Regions from separate parts of the Homo sapiens genome. Here regions 2, 3 and 4 are each reported to be linked to region 1. The links are microRNA targets in miRTarBase. Many come from high-throughput screens and were not tested one by one. Region 1 holds a microRNA gene; each other region holds the end of a gene's coding sequence. Distances are between the middles of the regions.
The links. Region 1 holds the annotated microRNA hsa-miR-181c-5p (AACAUUCAACCUGUCGGUGAGU, at 2,018-2,039, opposite strand). A microRNA usually pairs through its seed, bases 2 to 8, with sites in the 3' UTR of a target mRNA and lowers its output. Matches are read on the target gene's strand: a 7mer-m8 pairs with bases 2 to 8, a 7mer-A1 pairs with bases 2 to 7 and ends in A, and an 8mer does both.

Region 2: the mRNA of ZDHHC15 is a reported target of hsa-miR-181c-5p. The part of its 3' UTR that is shown has no 7-base or 8-base seed match.
Region 3: the mRNA of FOXL1 is a reported target of hsa-miR-181c-5p. The part of its 3' UTR that is shown has no 7-base or 8-base seed match.
Region 4: miRTarBase lists ZNF121 as a target of hsa-miR-181c-5p. Seed matches in the 3' UTR shown: 8mer at 279-286.

What each region holds. Positions count from the first base shown.
Region 1 is chr19:13,873,627-13,876,763 of GRCh38, reverse strand. It overlaps MIR181C (microRNA 181c), which reads right to left and starts at 2,065; the gene lies at 1,956-2,065. MIR181D (microRNA 181d) reads right to left here and starts at 1,889; the gene lies at 1,753-1,889. It also overlaps a transcript of NANOS3 not described here.
Region 2 is chrX:75,376,182-75,379,318 of GRCh38, reverse strand. ZDHHC15 (zDHHC palmitoyltransferase 15) reads left to right here. Exons shown (of 12, transcript NM_144969.3): 11 at 121-199. The coding sequence ends at 167. Among named protein-coding and RNA genes, the nearest start is that of UPRT, 100 kb to the right of the region's middle.
Region 3 is chr16:86,579,105-86,582,241 of GRCh38, forward strand. FOXL1 (forkhead box L1) reads left to right here. Exons shown (of 1, transcript NM_005250.3): 1 at 1-3,137. The coding sequence ends at 657. Among named protein-coding and RNA genes, the nearest start is that of FOXL1, 2.1 kb to the left of the region's middle. RefSeq lists an enhancer at 305-926.
Region 4 is chr19:9,563,071-9,566,207 of GRCh38, reverse strand. ZNF121 (zinc finger protein 121) reads left to right here. Exons shown (of 4, transcript NM_001008727.5): 4 at 1-3,137. The coding sequence ends at 268. Among named protein-coding and RNA genes, the nearest start is that of ZNF121, 20 kb to the left of the region's middle.

The DNA.
Region 1 (3,137 bases):
ATAACTTTTTCTTCCTTCCCCTGGGCGGGGGAGTGGCCAGGTGCCCCTGGGTTCTTTGTGTGTGTGTGTGTCCAGGCGGGAGGTTGCTGATGCTCCAGCTGTCTCTGAAAGGAGTGTGGTAGTCCCAGGCTCATGGGCTGGTTGCGGGGGTAGGGGGGAAGGATCATGCCCCCCGGCCCCCAGCTCTGGTCTCCCTCCAAGAGTTTTCACATCGGTTGTCTTAGTGGAACCCCCATTGAATGGATGAGCAAACTGAGGTGTGAAGCCACCTGCCCATCCAGTTATTTATAAAGACATGCACCAGGCCAGGGAGTGGTGGCTCATGCCTGTCATCCCAACAGTTTGGGAGGCCAAGACAGGCGGATCACCTGAGGTCAAGAGTTCGAGACCAGCCTGGCTAACATGGTGAAACCCTGTCTCTACTAAAAATACACACACACACACACACACACACAAAATTAGCTGGGCATGGTGGCGGGTGCCTGTGATCCCAGCTACTCAGGAGGCTGAGGCAGAAGAATTGCTTGAACCCAGGAGGCAGAGGTTGCGGTGAGCCAAGATCAAGCCACTGCACTCCAGCCTGGGAAACAGAGTAAGACTCTGTCTCAAAACAACAACAACAAAAAGCACCACATCTGCCTCCTTCTTCTAGTTACTGGGGCCCCCTGAGGCTAGGTGCTGGGGAGGGAGCCCTTTCCTGGCGGGGGCTGCAGAGGGGTGAGAAAGAACCCTCTGGAGTTGGGAGGTGGGGGATAGCAAGTTGGGCTGTTAGGAGGGGACCCCTAGTACCTACAGGTCTTCAGTGTCCTCCCCGAGATGAGATCTCAGCTCAGTCCCAGGAGGGGAGGGTGTGCTCAGGACTTGGACACAGAGGAGAGACGCTGTGCCGCTTACACAGCTCATCCACCCATCCATTCATTTAAGAAACTTTTATTGGCCAGGCACTGTGGCTCATTTTGAGAGGCCGAGGAGGATTGCTTGAACCTAGGAGTTGGAGACCAGCCTGGGCAACGTTTTGAGACCCTGTTCCTACAAAAACACTTTTTCGAAATAAGCTAGGTGTGGTGGTGCGTGCCCGTGGTTCCGGCTACTGGGGAGGCTGAGGCGGGAGGATCAACGCTTGACTCCAGTTATTAGAGGCTGCAGTGAGCTAAGGTCACACCATTGCACTCCAGCCTGGGTGACAAGAGCGAGATCCTGTCTCTAATTTAAAAAACAAAACTATGGAGCACTCCACGGAGCAGAACTTACCACCCACATTTCAGAAAGGGGTTTTAGGCCAGGCAAAGTGGCTCATGCCTGTAATCCCAGCACTTTGGGAGGCCGAGGGGGGAGGATTACTTGAGGTCAGGAGTTTGAGACCAGCCTGGCCAACACAGTGAAATCTCGTCTCTACTAAAAATACAAAAATTAGCCCACTGTGGTGGCAGATGCCTGTAATCCCAGCTACTTGGGAGGCTGAGGCCAGAGAATCACTCAAACCCTGGAGGCAGAGGTTGCAGTGAGCTGAGATTGGGCCACTGCACTCCAGCCTAGGCAACAGAGTGAGACTCTGTCTTAAAAAAAAAAAAAAAAGGGGATTTTAGCTGCCCTGCCCCAGCCTGTTTACCCCCAACCCTCTAATATTTAGTCCCAAATCCAGCCAGAGCCCATCCAGATTCCAGACACCAGCTCTCCTCTCCAAAGAGGAGTGGTTGGGGTCAGGGCAAAAAACAGGCTGAGTGACTGTGGCGGTGGGGGGTCCTGTCCCCAGTCCCCATTCCCCTTAAGCCGTGTCTGGCCCAGCCACAGTGACATTCATCCCCCGGTGGGTCTGGCCTCAGTCCTCACAACCCACCGACAACAATGAATGTTGATTGTGACCTCGGCTGTGGCCTAGGGGAGGGGACGTGCCCAGGCTGGATTGGGGGCTCCCCAGGCCCCCCTAGATCTGGAAGGTCAGAGTCACCGGCAGGAGGATGGCAATTCCAGGCCTCAGGGTCCACTCAACGGTCGATGGTTTGCCTGAGCTGCCCAAACTCACCGACAGGTTGAATGTTCCCCCAAACCCTTGGCAAATTTTCCGGGACCTGGAGTCGGGGGTGGGGTAGGTGGCAGGGAACCAGAGAGCATGAAGAGGGAGAGGAGGAGAGAGTAAGGAACCCCTTTTCTCTCATGAAATAAACAAACGCTTTTCAGGTGCTGTTTGCACCTAGATCTGGGAAAAACACAAGGCAAATATAAATGCTAGTAAATAAAATGTAGCCTTTGCTATGGGGATGGAGATGTAGCAGTGCAGGGGAGTGCTGGCCTCAAGCCCGCTCCTTAAGTAATTCACAAAGTGATCCTGGAGGTGCAGATTACCCCCCTTTGTCAACTGGGGAGACTGAGGCCAAAGGCCACTGCTAGTCCGAGGTGGAGGAGGCATTCCAAGTGTTCCCGGGAAGTCTGGCAACGGAGGATCCTGGCCCCGAGGGCATTGATGCAACGTGGAGATAAACAAGCCATTTTAATACAATGTAATACGTTCTGGGAGCTTCACTGAGTTCCGGGCACGATGGTTTAGGAATCACAACAGCGTGAGTGGAGCGCTTGGGGGTGGGGGGTCGTCAGGTCTCTCCACTTTACAAGTGCACTGGGGCCCCACTAGACAGGGGAGAGGCAGGAGGTTCAGAGAGGGCGCCGCTCGCCCCGCGTGCGCGGTCACACAGCATCTGAACTCGGGCACTTCCGGAGGGAGTCCGCGCAGCCACGTGGGGGCTGCCCCTTGGGCCTCAAAACCGGCTGCGGCGCCCCCTCTCCATTTCCTCATCCCTCAAATGACCCCCAGTCCCTTCCTCCAGTGATCGCACAGAGTTCGGCGACCACCCCCCCGCCCCGGGTGCCCCCAGGCCTACAGGTACGCACCCCTATCTCCCACCCCCCGCAAGCCAAGCAGTGACGACCAGGGATGGGCGAGCGCGCCTTCGCCCCTGACCTGGGTCTGCGGACGGCCTAGGAAGGTGCACCCGGCATGGCCGGGTGCTGCGGCTCAGGCCTGTAATTCAGTATTTTGGGAGGCTGAGGCGGGAGGATCTTTTGAGCCCAGGAGATGGAGACCAACCTGAGCAACATAGCGAGATACCTGTCCCTACAAAAAAATTAGCTGGGTGTGGTGT
Region 2 (3,137 bases), not on the chromosome of region 1:
GAGGTTTGCAGGTATCTGTTGCCTGCAGAGATTGAACAAGAAGGAAAACTGCCAGTGAATGAATACCCACCCATATAAGGCACGGGGACATTTGATCATCTTCACGTTTCAACCTTGCAGATTATCCAGAAGGCTCATCATCTCTTGCTGTGGAAACGGAAACATAGCAGTTTTCACATTTCCTGCATCTCTCAGACAGGTCAGTATTCTGAGGGAGACACATACAGTGGCACCTGGACTGCTAAGAAGGCGGCTTGGGAGAAGAACTAGAAAAGAAATAAGTTCTTATCCTGGGTGAAAAAGATTTTAAATTCTTCACTCTTGTAATGCATGCATAAGCAGAAGTTCTATACATAATTTCCCTTGGCAGTGTGCTGAAAAAAAAGATGCCCTTATTCCCTGCAAACTCACACTTATGTCACTTGTGCTGAAAAAAACTCCGGGGATCCAGACACCCAAACATTCCGTTAAGGTTATTTACTCTCATACTGTGAATTATAAGCCTCCTCCTGTTTCATTCCAGGTCTCTGAAATGGTACAGATTACAAATAGCTTTCTTTTGCCTGACTCCATTATGTCAGTTAATAACCTAGTCTTCCCCACTAAGGGCAAAAAAGCATCCTTCCTACACTGTAACCCTCCTAAAATGCTATGAGTTTGTTAAGTAGTGGCAGACAACTTTACACATGGGATTCTCTTTGGCCTGGTGAAAAGCTCGACGACCTTCTTTTTGCAACACTCACAGGTATAAACCCAGTGTAATTAAATATTAAAAGAATGTTAGTAATAGAAATACCATAGAGCTTATAGCTCTGATCGGATGAAACTTCTAATCCTATTCTCATGAAAAAAGCTAGCAATTATTCAGAAGCTTACAATCTGTTCGTGGGTTCCCAGGTCTTCAGTTCTTTCCCTTACAGAAATTCTGCTGTGTACAAGTGTACATATTGTATAAAACTTTGTATATGCCAGCCACTTTGGTGTGTACTTGATATATATGATCTTATTTAATCCTCACATCAACTGTAAGATGAATGTTACTATTCCCATTTTACTTATGAGAAAACTGATATGCAGAGAGGTTAAATCACTTATCCAAGTCTGCATATGTAGTAAGTGGCCAACCTAGGGTTGTAACTCAGGTCTATCTGACCTCAAAGCATGCTATTTCCACCATGGCACTACATTTCAAAATCTGAGTTATTTGTGATGTGTCTTTATTTATTATCAAAGATTAAAAAAGGAGAGAACCAAGTCTGTTTCCTTATCCAAAGCCCTGATGAAATGTTTGATGTTTAGGTAAGACAACTTATATGATAGTAATATCTAGATTTGGGTTATCTGTGGTGCTAATCTGTCTATTTTATTTTAGTATTTTCCTAGGGGAAACACTACTACTTTGGCATGGTAACAGATGTTAAAGGGAAGAAAAATTATCTGGTAAATAAATTTATAAAACCCTATATAAGCAAAATTAGAAAGTTGGCTTTAGTGTAGGAATTCTCAGGGGTTTTACTACACTATTGAGTTTTGTGGCTCACCAAAAGGAGGTTGTAGTGGTCCCTTAAATTTTATTTAACTGTTGGATCCTTTCTTTTTTGTGCCTATCATGGAACCTAGTATTTCGTGCAATACTTATCAGGACCATTAATATGCTAAGGAACTTTGAAATGCATTTTTTATATACTTCCCTAGATAAGCAAAATTGCCTTCAAGCAATGCCTTATGCCTTTTACAGGGCACTCTGTCCAAATATATTAATAAAGTGATTCATTTTGTGGAAATCACAAACTCATATATACATATATATATATTTTTTTTTTGAGATGGAGTCTCACTCTGTTGCCCAGGTTGGAGTGCAGTGGAGTGATCTCGGCTCACTGCAACCTCCACCTCCCAGGTTCAAGTGATTCTTCTGCCTCAGAACCCAAGTAGCTGGGATTACAGGTGTGTGCCACCACGCCCGGCTGCTTTTTGTATTTTTGGTAGAGATGGGGTTTCTCCCTGTTGGCCAGGCTGGTGTCTAACTCCTGACCTCAAGTGATCTGCCCACCTCGGCCTCCCAAAGTGTTGGGATTAGCCACCGTGCCGGGCCTCATATTCTGATAATAATAGAAAAGTACTTGGGAACACAGGAGGGAAGAGTGGGAGAAACCTTTTAAAACTTATTAAGATATGAAGAATTGTTTAAACTGTATGTAGATAATTACTACAGTGATATTTGTAAAAAGCTCCAAACTGAAAACAACCTGAATGTCTATCAGTAGAAGAATGCATTAATACATTATATATGTCCAAGTAATTAGATATTTAATATATATTTCCCTTCATTTTCTTTTGAAGTTTTTTAAATAAAAAAGGATGAAAGAAAACATGAATCCCTTGTGTTTAAAATGTAGAATCAATGCTAATTTTTTCATTTTGCCTCTAAATTTTGTATATAAAAAATTATTGCCATAATTTTTACCCCAAAAATGTACTTATTCTAGATTATATTTTCTTCAAAATGAAAAGACAAACTTGAAAAATATTTGCAAACTATACAACACACAAAATTTAATATGCTTAATTTACAAAGCTCTTGCAAATCAGTAAACAAAAGAAAAACACAACAGTTAGAAAATGGGCAAAGCAACAAAAGAAAGCAATGAGGAAAGAACTCTCTATTCAATTAATGGTGCTGGGATAACTGGCTAGCCATATGCAGAAGACTGAAACTGGACCCTTACTTTTCTCCATATGCAAACATTAACTCAAGATGGATTAAAGACTTAAATGTAAGACTTCAAACTATAAAAATCCTAGAAGCAACCCTAGGAAATACCCTTCTCAACATTGGCCTTGGCAAAGAATTTTTGGCCAAGTCCCCAAAAGCAATTGCAACAGAAACAAAAATTGACAAGTGGGATCTAATTAAACTAAAGAGCTTCTGCACAGCAAAAGAAATTATCAGTAGCAAAAACAATCTACAGAATGGAAGAAAATATTTGCAAACAATGCATCTGACAAAAGTTTAATATCCAGAATCTATAGGGAACTTAACAAGCAAAAAAAAAAAAACAACCCCATTAAAAATGGGCAAAGGACATGATGAACAGACGTTTCTCAAATGAAGACATACAAGCAGCCAACAAACA
Region 3 (3,137 bases), not on the chromosome of region 1:
CGCTGCCTGGACATGTTTGAGAACGGCAACTACCGGCGCCGGAAGAGGAAGCCCAAGCCGGGCCCCGGGGCCCCGGAGGCCAAGAGGCCCCGCGCCGAGACGCACCAGCGCAGCGCGGAGGCGCAGCCGGAGGCGGGGAGCGGGGCAGGGGGCTCGGGCCCCGCAATCTCCCGCCTGCAGGCAGCGCCCGCGGGCCCCTCGCCCCTCCTGGACGGCCCCTCTCCGCCGGCGCCCCTCCACTGGCCGGGGACCGCGTCCCCGAACGAGGACGCTGGTGACGCTGCCCAGGGCGCAGCGGCCGTGGCGGTCGGCCAGGCAGCGCGCACAGGGGACGGCCCGGGGTCCCCTCTGCGCCCCGCCTCCCGCAGCTCTCCGAAGAGCTCCGACAAGTCCAAGAGCTTCAGCATAGACAGCATCCTGGCGGGAAAGCAGGGCCAGAAGCCGCCTTCAGGGGACGAACTCCTAGGGGGTGCCAAGCCTGGGCCCGGCGGCCGTCTGGGTGCCTCGCTCCTGGCCGCCTCCTCCAGCCTCCGTCCGCCTTTCAACGCTTCCCTGATGCTCGACCCGCATGTCCAGGGCGGCTTTTACCAGCTCGGGATCCCCTTCCTCTCTTATTTCCCCCTGCAGGTTCCCGACACGGTACTCCACTTCCAGTAAAGCAAACAATGGCACGGTTCTTCTCCCGGCCCAGCCTGAGCCTCCGCTGAGCGAAAGGCCACAGCTCCCACCGGCGGAGGATTTTAAAATGATCTTTGCCTGGGTCGGCCTGTGGGTTCAGGGAAGTGTTACCAACCATTGCGCGCAGGTGGGCGCGCTCGCCTGCCTTCTCCGAAGCAAACTTTTCCCAGCAACTGGGAGCAGCTACGGAGACTTAAAAGATCCCCGCGGGGTCGTGGGCACCGCACGTGGGCCCTGCAGGGACCTCCACCGCGGGAGATTCCTTGACGTTTGACCTGTCTAATGGAGTGTGGTCTTCAGCCGCCCACCGCAGGTCCTGCGAGTCCCGGGCATGCAAGGGCCCGCAGACCACCCAAGGCAGGCCTTACAGGTGCAGTTGAGGTCCTTTCGACCGGGGACCCCCGTATGACCGTCGCCTGCTTCGCTGTTGCCGTGTGGCTCAGGCCTTGGTTTTGAGCCCATCTGGGTGGTGGGTGGTCACAGCTGGGTTTGTTCCTGACTTGAAGTTGTGGAGGTGCCGGGGGTGACCCCGGGTTTTCAGGTTTTCTGAGAGATGTAGGGCCCGATGAGGATTTATGACCAATGTTCAGCTATAGAAGCTGATAACCACCCAGAGCAATAACACTTTTATTTTAAACAGAGACTTTTTCTCTTAATTTCTTTCTGGGTAGTAAAAAGAACATGTTTCATTCTTTGCATAAATACTTGACTCTAAGCATTGACCTTTGAAAACGCTTGTATTAACAATTTTTATTAAGAAAGTGCACTCTATATAACATCTTCTTGCATTACGATAGCTCATTAGCCAATACACATGCAGCTATGTAAGCCACAACAGCAGACGTCCTATCCTTTTGCTTTTGTTTTTAAGGGATCAAAATATTTCAAGGGATACCATGAGGAAGGGTGTGAGGGGAAGGGGATATGCCTTGGACAATGTCAGAGTTTTGATTTCCATGTTTTTTCAAGATCCAGGCTTGGTGGTCGCTATATTTTTCAGAAACAGATAATGAAAGACTACATTTAATTTAAAAAGTTGGGTGAAACAACCAAAAGCAGATGCAGAGAGAGAGAGGGATGAATGCGGGGGAAGAATAAGGGGACGTGCTGGTGTCCGCTGGAAGGGGCCTCTCTGGGCCCCAGAGGACCTGAGGTTTGATGGCAGGAATCTCCCAGACACTCCTGGCCCCCGCACCCCCTGCAGCCGCCCGCTCTTCCCTCCCAGCCCTGCCAGGCAGGCCTGGAGGCTGATACTAAATCAAAACCTTAAAGAGGTGACTGGCAGTCTGGGGAGGGGAGAAGAGGTCTGCAACGAAAATCTAATTAAGAACATTGAGATGTTCACAACCAAGTTCAGCTTGCAGCTTCCGGGGAAATGCAACCGACCTCTATGCCATCTCTAGCTGGGTAATCTTCGAGGCCCTGAAATGCAATTTTCTGAACCTCTAAGTCACTTTTATTTTATGTCATGTGATAAAGACACAAGTAGTCACGCACTATTGGAAATAGGTTGGGAGGGAGGTCTTTAAGATCGCTTTTAAAATAGTTTCCAGGACTTGTCTAAAAATGATGACAAACTTTGAATCCAGAGGGCCTGTTGGTCAATGTGTTGGAAAGGACATTTCAGGCCGGCAGAGTAATTGGATAATTCACAGGCATAGAGGTGACTTTTGGAAAATTCATTCTCCTATCCATGCTGAACCAGGCTTCCACGACTGGGTTCTACCCAGGCCAGTGGGAAGACTCTGGGAAACTTCAGGCCAGCCTTGATTGGAAGAACTTCCAGGAGGAGCCATTGCTGAGATCCAGGCTCACTGTGATTCACTGAAAATGTAGCGAAAGGGCTGTCACTGGATATTTTGCTATCCCAAACTCTCAGCCTCTGTGAATAAAGTTGTTTTTTCATTAACCTCTCAGTGACTGGTTCAGTGGATTACTGGAGGGAAATAAACAAACAGTGTAATAAGAAAGAGGAGACTGGGATTATATCTGGGAGTCGTGTTAGCATCTCAGGAGGCTCTGGCTTCTGAGGGGTAAACACACAGATGGAGGGGAAGGAGTGGAGAGGATGCCGGGCCCAGGAAGCTGCCTCCATATCAGAAAGCACGATGAGTTAATTCTGCCGTATTGAATCGGTTTTTAATCTTTCCTTTTTCTTTTTTGTGTTTGTATGTTATCTTGGGAGGTTTTGTTAATTTGTGATGGCTATGTTTTGAAGAAGCAAATAATTTGATACTGCAGTTTTAAAAGGGTCGTATTTTAAAGTTACTATTCCAAAAAGTATTGTACGAATGTTACTTTTATGACACAGAAAAAATGCAGATGTATCCACTTTGTGTGTTTATACATGCATAAAGAGAAATTCTATTTAATCCCAACTTTTGTCTGGTTTAGAAAAGCTAAGACAAGTGGATACTGAGGTCGTTTTTATGTAATCTATATAATTGCATGTGTATTCC
Region 4 (3,137 bases), 4.3 Mb from region 1:
TGTAAAAATCCATACTGGAGAGAAGCCCTATGAATGTAAGGACTGTGGGAAAGCCTTTGCTACATCTTCACAACTCATTGAACATATAAGAACTCACACTGGAGAGAAACCGTATATATGTAAGGAATGTGGGAAAACCTTCCGTGCTTCTTCACATCTACAGAAACATGTTAGAATTCACACTGGAGAGAAACCCTATATATGTAACGAATGTGGGAAAGCCTACAATAGATTTTATTTACTTACTAAACATTTAAAAACACACTGAAGAAAAACTCTGAATGTAAGGAATGTGGAAATCTTTTAGGAATTTCTCATACCATAATTACCACATTTGAATTCACACTGAAGAGAAATTTTATTGGTACAAAGAATGTGAGGAGGCCTTCAGTTATCCCCATTCACTTCGAAGACATGAAAGAACTCATACTCTATGTGTCCCCTATAAATTTTAGGAATGTTAGGGAGCCAATGGAATCTTTTTTTATTATTTTATTTTATTTTATTTTATTTTATTTTATTTTATTTTATTTTATTTGAGACAGAGTTTTGCTGTTGTCATCACACAGGCTGGAGTGCAATGGCATGATCCCAGCTCACTGCAACCTTTGTCTCCTGGGTTCAGGCGATTCTGCCTCAGCCTTCAAGTAGCTTGGATTACAGGTGCCGTCAACCACACCCAGCTAATTTTTGTATTTTTAGTAGAGATGGGGTTTCACCATGTTGGCCAGGCTGGTCTCGAGCTCCTGACCTCAGGTGATCCACCCGCCTTGGCCTCCCAAAGTGCTGGGATTATAGGAGTGAGCCACTGCTCCTGGCCTTTTTTTTTTTTTTTTTTTTTTTTTTTTTTTTTTGTAAGTCGTTGTTAATACACATTCTTTTCTCAAGGGATTGGATTGTGGTCACAATCCAACATTTGAGAACTCACCATGGGGCCATACAATGTAGAAAACACAGAAAGCCCTCATTATTTCCTTAGGCCTTTCTAAGTATATAAGATGTTGCAATGGAGAAGAGAAACCCTATTGATACAAGATACAGGCATGCCCTGTAGATATTGTGAGTTTTGTTCCAGACTACCACTATAAAGTGAATATCACAATAACATGAATCATACAAATGTTTTGGTTTCCCAGTGCATATAAGTTAGGTTTACATCATATGGTAGTCTCTTGTGTGCAGTTGTGTTATGTCTAAGTAAAGTACCTTAGTTTAAAATACTTTATTGCCAAAAAGTGCTAATGATCATGTGAGACTTTGGTGAGTTGTAATCTTTTTGCTTGTGGTAGGTCTTGCCTCAGTGTTGATGGCTGTTGATCAGGGTGGCTGTGGCAGTTTCTTAAAATAAGACAGCAGTGAAGATTGCTGCATTGATTGACTCTTCATTACATGAAAAACTTCTCTTTAGCATTCGACGCTGTTTGATAACATTTTACGCATAGTGGAACTTCTTTTAGAATTGGACTTAATCCTCTCAAACTTCGCCACTGCTTGATCAACTAAGTTGATGTAATATTCTAAGTCTGTTGTCTTTTCAACAATGTTCACAGCATCTTCAGGAGTAGATTTCATTTCAGGAAACCACTTTCTTTGCTTATCTATACAAAGCAGCCTCTCATCTGTTCAAGTTTTTTCACGAGATTGAAACAATTCTGTCACATCTTCAGGCTCCACTTCTAATTCTAGTTCTCTTTTTTCCATCACATCCACAGTTACTTTTTCCACTGAAGACTTGAACCCCTCAGAGTCACCTATGAAGGTTGGAATCAACTTCTTCCAAACTCTGGTTAATGTTGGTTTTTATTTTTTTAATTAAAAAAATTTTTTTTAGAGACAAGGTCTCGCTGTGTTGTTCATGCTGGAGTACAAGTGGGTATTCACCAGCACGATGAGAGCACACTGTAGCCTTGAACTCCTGGCCTCAAGTGATCCTCCTTCCTATGCCTCCTGAGTAGCCAAGACTCCAGGCACACACCACCACACCTGCCTTAATGTTGATATTTTGACCTCCTTCCATGAATCATAAATGTTGTTAATGGCATCTAGAATGGAGAATCCTTTCTGCAAGGTCTGCAACTTAATTTATCCAGATCCCTCAGAAGAAGCATTATTAGTGGCAGCTATAGCCTTATGAAATGTATTTCTTAAATAATAAGACTTGAAAGTCAGAATTATTCCAGAATCCATGGGCTGCGGTTAGCAGACATGAAAACGCCAATCTTGTTTATACCTCCATAAGAGCTCTTGGTTAGTAGGTTCATTATCAGTGGTAATATTTTGAAAGGAATCTCTGAACAGTATGTTTTACAGTGGGCTTAAAATATTCAGTAAACCATGCTGTAAATAGATGTAAATAGATACCACAGGAAGAGTAGATGTAGCATAATTCTTAACTGGCTCTTGGATTTTTGGAATGGTAATTGAATATTAGCATTCATTTAAAGTCACCAACTGCATTGACCTCTAACAAGAAAGCCAGCCCAGGCTGGGAAAAGTGGCTTACACCTGTAATTCCAGTGCTTTGGGAGGCTGAGGTTGGAGGATCACTTGAGGTCAAGAGTTCAAGACCAGCCAGCACAACAGAGCGTGACGCTGTCTCTACAAAGTAAAGAGTCAGCCCGTCCTTTGAATCTTTGAAGTCAGATATTAGCTTACCTAGAGCTGTGAAAGTCCTAAATGGCATCTCCTGAAGTAAGGCTGTTTTGTCTCTGTTAAAACTCTAGTAGAGCTACCTCTGCCATTTATCTAGATATTCTGGAAATGCTTGCTGCAGATTCCACATCAGCAATTGCTACTTCACTTTGTACTTTTATGTTATGGAAATGACTTGTTAAACCTCACGAACTGATCTTTGCCAGCTTCCAGCATTTCTTCTGCAGCTAACTCACCTCTCAGCCTTCATAGAATTAGAGTTAGGGCCTTGCTCTGGATTAGGTTTTGGCTTAAGGGAATGTTGTGGCTGGTCTGATCTTCTATCCAGACCACTAAAACTTATTCCGTGTTAGTGGTGAGGCTGTTTTCCTTTCTTATTATGTGTGTGTTCACTGGAGTAGCACTTTTAGTTTCCTTCAAGAACTTTACATTCACAACTTGGCTAACTGGCACAAGAGGCCTAGATTTTGGCCTATCCCAGTTTT